2 linked regions of the Homo sapiens genome follow. Each later gene encodes a partner of the first gene's protein in a complex. Each region holds a gene or a part of one and is shown in the gene's direction. Other genes may lie near its edges.

Region 1 (3,746 bases):
TTTTCCTTTGTATTTTTCTTTTAGAAACTTATAGTAGTTTCACAGTTTCAGGTCTAATGTTTAAGTCTTTAATCTGTTTTGCGTTGATGTTTGTATATGCTGTGGGACTAAGGTCTATTTTCATTCTTCTGCATCTGGGTATTCTGTTTTCTTGGCACCATTTATTGAAGACACTGTCTTTTCCCTATTGTGTCTTCTTAGCATCTTTGTCGAAAATCAGTTGACTGCCAATGTCTGGATTTATCTCTGGTTTCTTTGTTCTCTGTAGCTCTATGTGTCTGTTTTTATACTATTGTCATTCTGTTTTGATTACTATAACTTTGTAGCAGATTCCAGGTCAGGGAGTGTGATGCCTCCAGCTTTGTTCTTTTTGTTCAAGATTGCTGTGGCTATTTGGAGTTTTTTGTGGTTCCATGTGAGTTTTAGGATTGTTTTTTCTATTTCTGTGAAAAACGTAACTGGAATTTTGATAGGGATTGAGTCCAGTCTGTATGTTGCTTTGGGTACTGTGGACATTTTAACATATTATTTCAGTCCATGGACATGGGATGTCATGCATGTTCTTCCATTTTTTCATCAGCAATTTGTAGTTTTTAGTGTACAGCTCTTTCATCTCCATGGTTAGATTTATTCCTAACTTTTTTTTTCATAGCTATTGTAAATGGGATGTTTTCTTGATTTTTCAGAAAGATAGTTCATTGTAAGCATATGGAAGCACTACTGATTTTTGTATGTTGATTTTGTGTCTGCAGCTTTACTAAATTAGTTTATTAGTTCTAACAATTTTTTGGTTAAGTCTTTAGGGTTTTCTATATTAAGATCCTGTTTACAGCAAACAGGCTTCTCTATTTTTGATTTGGATACCTTTTATTTCTTTCTCTTGCCTAATGGCTCTGGCTAGGACTTCTAGTACTATGTTGAATAGAATTGGAAAGAGTAGGCACCCTTTTCTTATTCCTGATCCTAGAGGAAAAGCTTTCAGCTTGTCACCGTTGAGTATATTAGCTATGGGTTCGTCATATATGGCCTTTATTCCAATTTAATTTCTAGTGAGAGTGAAATGGGAATGTGAGAGAAATGGGAAAGATGAGCAATACATTTTAGAAAAGCAGAAGGGAATCACCGTATTCTATAAGAATATGTGGCTTTAAGCAATTGGTGATATTTAAAAGGGTCAGAAAATAGAATTACTCCATGTTGTATTTATTATTTTAAAATCTGAGGGCTGTTTTCTCATGTCATTTTACATGACTATGATTCATCTTTAAAAAAATATGGAATGTAGTGGCCAGGCACGGTCGCTGTAATCCTAGCCTGTAATCCTAGCACTTTGGGAGCCTGAGGCAAGAGGACCACTTGAGTCCAGGAGTTGCCTGGGCAACATTGTGAAAACCTGTCTCTATGAAAAATACAAAAATTAGCTGGGCGTGGTGGCACACAGTAGTCCCAGCTCCTCCGGAGGCTGAGGTGGGAGGATTGCTTGAGCCCAGGAGGCAGAGCTTCCAGTGAGCCAAGATCGCCCCACTGCACTCCTGCCTGGGTGACAGAGTGAGACCCTGTCTCTCCCCAACCTCTCCAAAAAAGGTGGGGGTATAAAGTAGGAGCAGCAAGTTTTAGAGGTAGAGAAAGTTGATCAAGAGACAGCCATTATCCTCAAAAGTGGGCAGAGATCTCTCCAATTTACTTAGAAAAAAAGTAGACTTAGAAGAGTTATGGATTGCTAAAGATACTATAATTTATAAGCTGCATCCTTTTTCTTATTTTCCACTCTAGTGATTCAGTTGTCATATCTAAAACTACCATTAAGACTTTTTTTCCTGACTTTTGGCAATCCAATAATTACTTGTCATTACATTGCTAAAAGTAACTTTAGTTTGCCCAATTTGCCTTTCCCCTTCCTCATCAAATGCATATAGAAACATGACCATTTTCAAAATGAGTTACAAGTAGGTACCTTTTAATTTCCTGTTACTGTTTTAGCATTAATCTGGCATTGCTTTTAATTCGTTTCTTTATTTCTCACAGGAGTATTCCACATCTTCATTTTATTCTACTAAAATTAGACTTAAAGATTTAAACCCAAATTTGTCTTTAATCACAAAATTAATTTTATAAAAATGACAGATCTGTAGTAGAAACTTTATGTTATCTACCTTTTATACTTTTGAAGCAGGTCTGCTTTTGTTTACTTTTTAAAAAATGTTAAAGAAATTATTTATATGAACCTTTTTAAGGTTCAAATTCATGATTAGATATAACAGACTGGGAAAAGAGGAATTATATGTAGAGAGAAAAATTTTGGTGATAAATTGCAGTAAAATCTTCATTCTATTTTACAAAATCACAAATTCACATTTCGTTTTCTGAAAAACAATTTTTATTTATTAGTAAGACAAACTCTTTCCAGTTAGTTCTGATTTAGATTTTATGATTACTTATAGAGAAATATTACTGAATTTTAATAGTTTTTGTTTCGTTTAATTAATTTGGTGATTATTGTTGACTCCTTTTTAAATTCTTTTTTAAACAGAGGACTGCTGTCCAGGTCTGTTTTGCAAGCACAGAGTGCTTCTCCAATCTTCACCCATGTTTATGCAGCATTAGTGGCAATTATCAACTCAAAATTTCCACAAATTGGAGAATTAATCCTCAAAAGGTTAATTCTTAATTTTCGAAAAGGCTATCGAAGAAATGACAAGGTATATATGAATGGCTTGTAAGTAGAATGATACATAGGAACAAACTAACAAACCAGTATCAACAAAAGTAAGCAAGGTTGATTTTGACACAGCTACATAACATAATGCTTTTTAAAAACTGTCTTTCATGAGAACTTCTTTGATCTGTTAAATATCCCTGGCCACTATTGATGAGCCACAAAAATGATGGCTATAACTGTAGAACTATAACTATTTAACCAGAAGGGATACTCTTTCATGTGTTTTATTTTGTAACTTTCTTATAATGTAAAAATTATACTTGTGTGGTACATGTTTTAAATAGATGATGTTAGTAGGCCATAGATTATGTAAATAAATGAAAATTGGGTTTAGTTTATAGGTTAACTTTCCACCTTTATTTTTCAGCAACTTTGCCTGACTGCTTCAAAATTTGTGGCGCATCTTATTAACCAAAATGTGGTAAGTAATTATCTTCAATACTTGGTCCCATTCAGTGGCATTAGACCAGAGGGTTGATGCCACTTCACTGATACCTCTCTATTTTTGCTTTGCTTTATAGTCCTTGGGATAAAAATGTTGGATGATATTTTCATTTTAAAACTATAATAAATATATTTAATGTTCTTTTTTTTTTTCTTTTTTTGAGATGGAGTCTCACTCTGTCGCCCAGGCTGGAGTGCAGTGGCACAATCTTGGCTCACTGCAAGCTCTGCCTCCTGGGTTCACACCATTCTCCTGCCTCAGCCTCCCGAGTAGCTGGGACTACGGGCACCTGCCACCACGCCCGGCTAGTTTTTTTTGTATTTTTAGTAGAGACGGGGTTTCACCATGTTAGCCAGGATGGTCTCGATCTCCTGAACTCGTGATCCACCAGCCTCGGCCTCCCAAAGTGTTGAGATTACAGGTGTGAGCCACCACGCCTGGCCATATTTAATATTCTTTAATATAACACTTTGATGCTGATCAAAACACTTTAGATATTTATCAAATTAATCTGACTTAATACTGTACATGGTTACTTGACTGCAAACCATTCCTTTGAAGAACCATTCCCTTCATTTTTAT
Region 2 (3,746 bases), on another chromosome or scaffold:
ACACACAAAATAGCGGGGCGCGGTGGCTCACGCCTGTAATCCTAGCACTTTGGGAAGCCGAGGTGGGCGGATCATGAGGTCAAGAGATCAAGACCATCCTGGCCAACATGGTGAAACCCGGTCTATACTAAAAATACAGAAAATTAGCTGGGCGTGGTGGCGCGTGTCTGTAGTCCCAGCTATTTGGGAGGCTGAGGCAGGAGAATGGCGTGAACCTGGGCGACAGAACTTGCAGTGAGCTGAGATCGCGACACTGCACTCCAGCCTGGGCGAACCGAGCAAGACTCCGTCAAAAAAAAAAAAAAAAAAAAAAAAAAAAAAGGACAGAGCTGGCGCTCGTGGAAATACAATTTTCCCAAAGTTAAAAACATGATTCTCAACAGCATGAACTGCCCTTCAAAGATGATGGAGCTGCTTCAAAAGGCGTTAGAGGAGCTGGGTACGAAGAAGCACTTAAAGTGTCAGATAAGAAAGCGGTTAGTGGCTGCGCGTGGACACCTGTGGTCCCAGGTGCTCTGGAGGCTGAGGCGGGAGGATCGCCTGTGCTCGGGAGGTGGAGGCTGCAGTGAACCGAGATCGCGCCATGGCACTCCAGCCTGGGCGACAGGGCCAGACTGTCTCAAAACAAACAAACGAACAAACAAAAAGCAGGTTAAGATGCACAACTGGTTAAAGTTCTGCTGGGCAATTAAAAAATGATCCCGTCTGGGTTATCTTTGCTGCAGGACACGCATTAGCAGCACCGTCTACTGACAAGTGGCCTTCATTAAGAGCAAATTGCAGGCTCAGCATGTATTTTATTTATAACAGCTGCTTGCCGGGCACAGTGGCTCATGCCTGTAATCCCAGCACTTTGGGAGGCCAAGGCAGGCGGATCACCTGAGGCCCCGCAGTTCAAGACCAGCCAGGACAACCCTAACCCCCGCCTCCCCCAACCCCGTCTCTACAAAAAAATTTAAAAAATTAGCCGGGCGTGGTGGCGCGCGCCTGAGGTCCCAGCTACTCCAGAGGCTGAGGCGGAGGCTACAATGAACCCTGATCCTACCACTGCACTCCAGCCTGGGCGACGGAGCGAGACCCTGTCTCCAACTCACCAGGCAAACGGTGAAGACACACCCAGGCGCGTCCCCTAAGAGGGACGCCGGCTTCAGGGGCCCTGGCCCTCCCCAGCGCAGACCCGCCGGAGCCCAGCGCCGCGCCGGGGCCCACCACCGGCGGCCGTGAGGGTTTCCACTCGAATCTCCCCGGCGAGCTGGGCGCCTCCACTACGGGTCTGCGACGCAGTCCACCCACTGCGGGCCCGAGAGAGGACCCGTGCTCGTCATTTTTATTCGAGGCGGGGCTATCTGGGGACCCCGCCCGGAGCGGAGGCCCCTCGCGGCCCCAGCCTGTTTCCAGGGAATTCAGGTCCACACGCCGCTCAAAGAACCTCAGCGCCCCAGTCCGCGAAATCCCGCGGCCGGTACGAAACACCGCCAACTTTAGAAGTACCACCCCCTCCATCCCTTTCGTAAGGAACTGGGTGCCCCGCCCTCAACGAGATCCCGCGGGAACTGCATATGGCGCGAGAGCAGAAACACCTTACTTTTCCCTGCGGCAAACGCCCAGTTCCCTTTCACGTGACGAAGAGTGCCCCGTCCCCCAGAGGCGTGGCCGCGTCGCGCGTACGCACGTACGCACGTACGCACGCACGTCTCTCGCTTTCGCATACTTAAGGCGTCTGTTCTCGGCAGCGGCACAGCGAGGTCGGCAGCGGCACAGCGAGGTCGGCAGCGGCACAGCGAGGTCGGCAGCGGCACAGCGAGGTCGGCAGCGGCAGCGAGGTCGGCAGCGGCACAGCGAGGTCGGCAGCGGCAGCGAGGTCGGCAGCGGCGCGCGCTGTGCTCTTCCGCGGACTCTGAATCATGGCGACCACGGCCACGATGGCGACCTCGGGCTCGGCGCGAAAGCGGCTGCTCAAAGAGGAAGACATGACTAAAGTGGAATTCGAGACCAGCGAGGAGGTGGATGTGACCCCCACGTTCGACACCATGGGCCTGCGGGAGGACCTGCTGCGGGGCATCTACGCTTACGGTGAGCGGGCGCGGGCCGCGGGGGCCAGCCGGGGGCGAGTCGGGGGCGAGCCGGGGGCTGAGGGCCAGACTGGTGACTCCCGGGCCGGCCCTGCGCTCCGGAGGTCGTGGTCAGGGTCGAGGCTCGGGGGCCAGTGACGTCCGACCCCCACCCCCACCCCCGTCCTCGCCCTCACGCCTGGCTGTGTCGGCGCTTTCGGTGTGTGTCCCCCGTGCAGAGCTCGGCGCTGGGTCTGTCGGGGGCTGCAGCCGCTTCGAGGCACCTCAGCGTCCTTCATTCAGCAGATAACTGATTTCTACCTATTAGCTTTTCTAGGTACTGGGGTTTTGGCGGTAAACCGGAAGGGTTTGCGCCTTTACGGGTTTTGAATTTCGTTTGGGGGGAAAGCATACTGTCAGGTTGCCCAGGCAACCTGAAGAACCTGAAGCGGGGTAATTGAATAGAGTGGGACTGGGAAGGAGGAGAGAATTAGTAAAGCAGAGAGGTAAGGGGGTTCGCAGGAGGGGGTGCCATTTGAGCAGAGTTCTGGATGAAGGAGACTGTTATGAGAAGAGGGAAGAGCAGTTGGGGCAGAAGGAACAGCTGGTGCCAGGGCCTTGCAGCCCTTAGCCAGCTGCATTCCAGGAACTGAAAGAAGTCCCCTGTGGTGGGATTTTGGAGAGCTAGTCGGGGCAGATCTAGCAAAGACGTGTAGGGTGACGAATAATTTGAATTTCATTTAGAAATCTAGTGGGAAGCCAGTGGAAGGTTTTAAGTAGCTATGTGACACGATCACATTTACAGTTTTAAAGATTCTTCTGGGTGTCTGTAGATTTGAGGTGAGGCGAGGCAAGGCAGGAGAGGAAACAAGAGAGTTGGGAGCTTTTGCTGCAGTTCAGGGAAGAGAGGATTGTGCTGCCTTGGAGATGGAGTACCAGGGAGCTGACAGCATTGGCTGATGGATTGAACGTGAGTGACAGAAGGAGGAGAGTTGGAGTGTTTTGAGTAACCGGTGGTTGATGCTGCAAACATTTGGCTAGGTAGGCAGCACTCCAGAGAGTCAGAATCAGGAGCTGTCTCTTGGTATGTTTGAAAGATGTGAGGAAGTTGAGGGAGAGCCTGGAGAAGAGGTTGGGTTGGGCACATAGATGGGAATGACCAGCATCTGGGATAAATGGCCTGTGTTTAATGCTTGGGACAGGGACATTTTTTATCCTGTAGTTCTCTTCCTTTTCTTTCTTCCTTTTCCTTCTGACAGTCCTGCTCTTGTCACCAAGGCTGGAGTGTAGTGGCATGATCTCAGCTTATTGCAACTTCCACTTCTGGGGCTCAAGCGATTCCTTTGCCTCAGCCTCCCGAGTAGCTGGGATTATAGGTGTGGGCCACCACGTCCTACTAATTTTTGTATTTTTAGTAGGGAGGGGATTTTGCCATGTTGCCCAGGCTGGTCTTGAACTCCTGACCTCAGTGATCCACCAGCCTCAGCCTCCCAAAGTGATGGCATTACAGGTGTGAGCCACCCCACCTGGCCGTATCCTGTAGTTCTTGATGCCACAACAGTTTGGACAAAGTGAAGCGAAGTTGCTGAGGATGCGTGGTGAAAAAGCATCTCAGGCAGCCTCACAGTGAGGCTGACAGCCCCACCTGGTTTCCTGGCACTCAGGCAGTCCCTGCCCTAAGACACTGTTGTTAGT

What was found. The genes of interacting proteins can lie anywhere in the genome.
Region 2: the proteins of CWC22 (region 1) and EIF4A3 are in contact, whole or in part, in a crystal structure (PDB 4C9B), measured with the Homo sapiens proteins. Residues at the interface, in NP_001362958.1 of Homo sapiens: Thr129, Gly130, Gly131, Ala132, Tyr133, Pro135, Pro136, Ala137, Lys138, Arg140, Lys164, Asn167, Gly168, Ile170, Asn171, Lys172, Val173, Asn174, Ser176, Asn177, Ile180, Ile181, Glu184, Ala207, Ser208, Ile210, Phe211, Tyr215, Lys330, Arg331; in NP_055555.1 of Homo sapiens: Met43 (codon at 2,031), Gly44 (codon at 2,034), Ile72, Ile73, Lys74, Gly75, Gln98, Cys99, Met183, Gln213, Val256, Ala257, Glu259, Trp263, Asp266, Thr267, Asp270, Leu271, Tyr272, Asp273, Thr274, Leu275, Thr276, Ile277, Thr278, Gln279, Ala300, Asn301, Phe302, Thr303.

The regions. Positions count from the first base shown.
Region 1 is NC_000002.12:179,972,587-179,976,332, reverse strand, and holds part of CWC22 (pre-mRNA-splicing factor CWC22 homolog), read left to right. Parts: intron 1-2,530; coding exon 2,531-2,699; intron 2,700-3,086; coding exon 3,087-3,140; intron 3,141-3,746. UniProt on the Homo sapiens protein: Required for pre-mRNA splicing as component of the spliceosome. As a component of the minor spliceosome, involved in the splicing of U12-type introns in pre-mRNAs. Promotes exon-junction complex (EJC) assembly.
Region 2 is NC_000017.11:80,145,120-80,148,865, reverse strand, and holds the start of EIF4A3 (eukaryotic initiation factor 4A-III), read left to right. Parts: upstream 1-1,737; 5' UTR 1,738-1,904; coding exon 1,905-2,073; intron 2,074-3,746. UniProt on the Homo sapiens protein: ATP-dependent RNA helicase. Involved in pre-mRNA splicing as component of the spliceosome. Core component of the splicing-dependent multiprotein exon junction complex (EJC) deposited at splice junctions on mRNAs.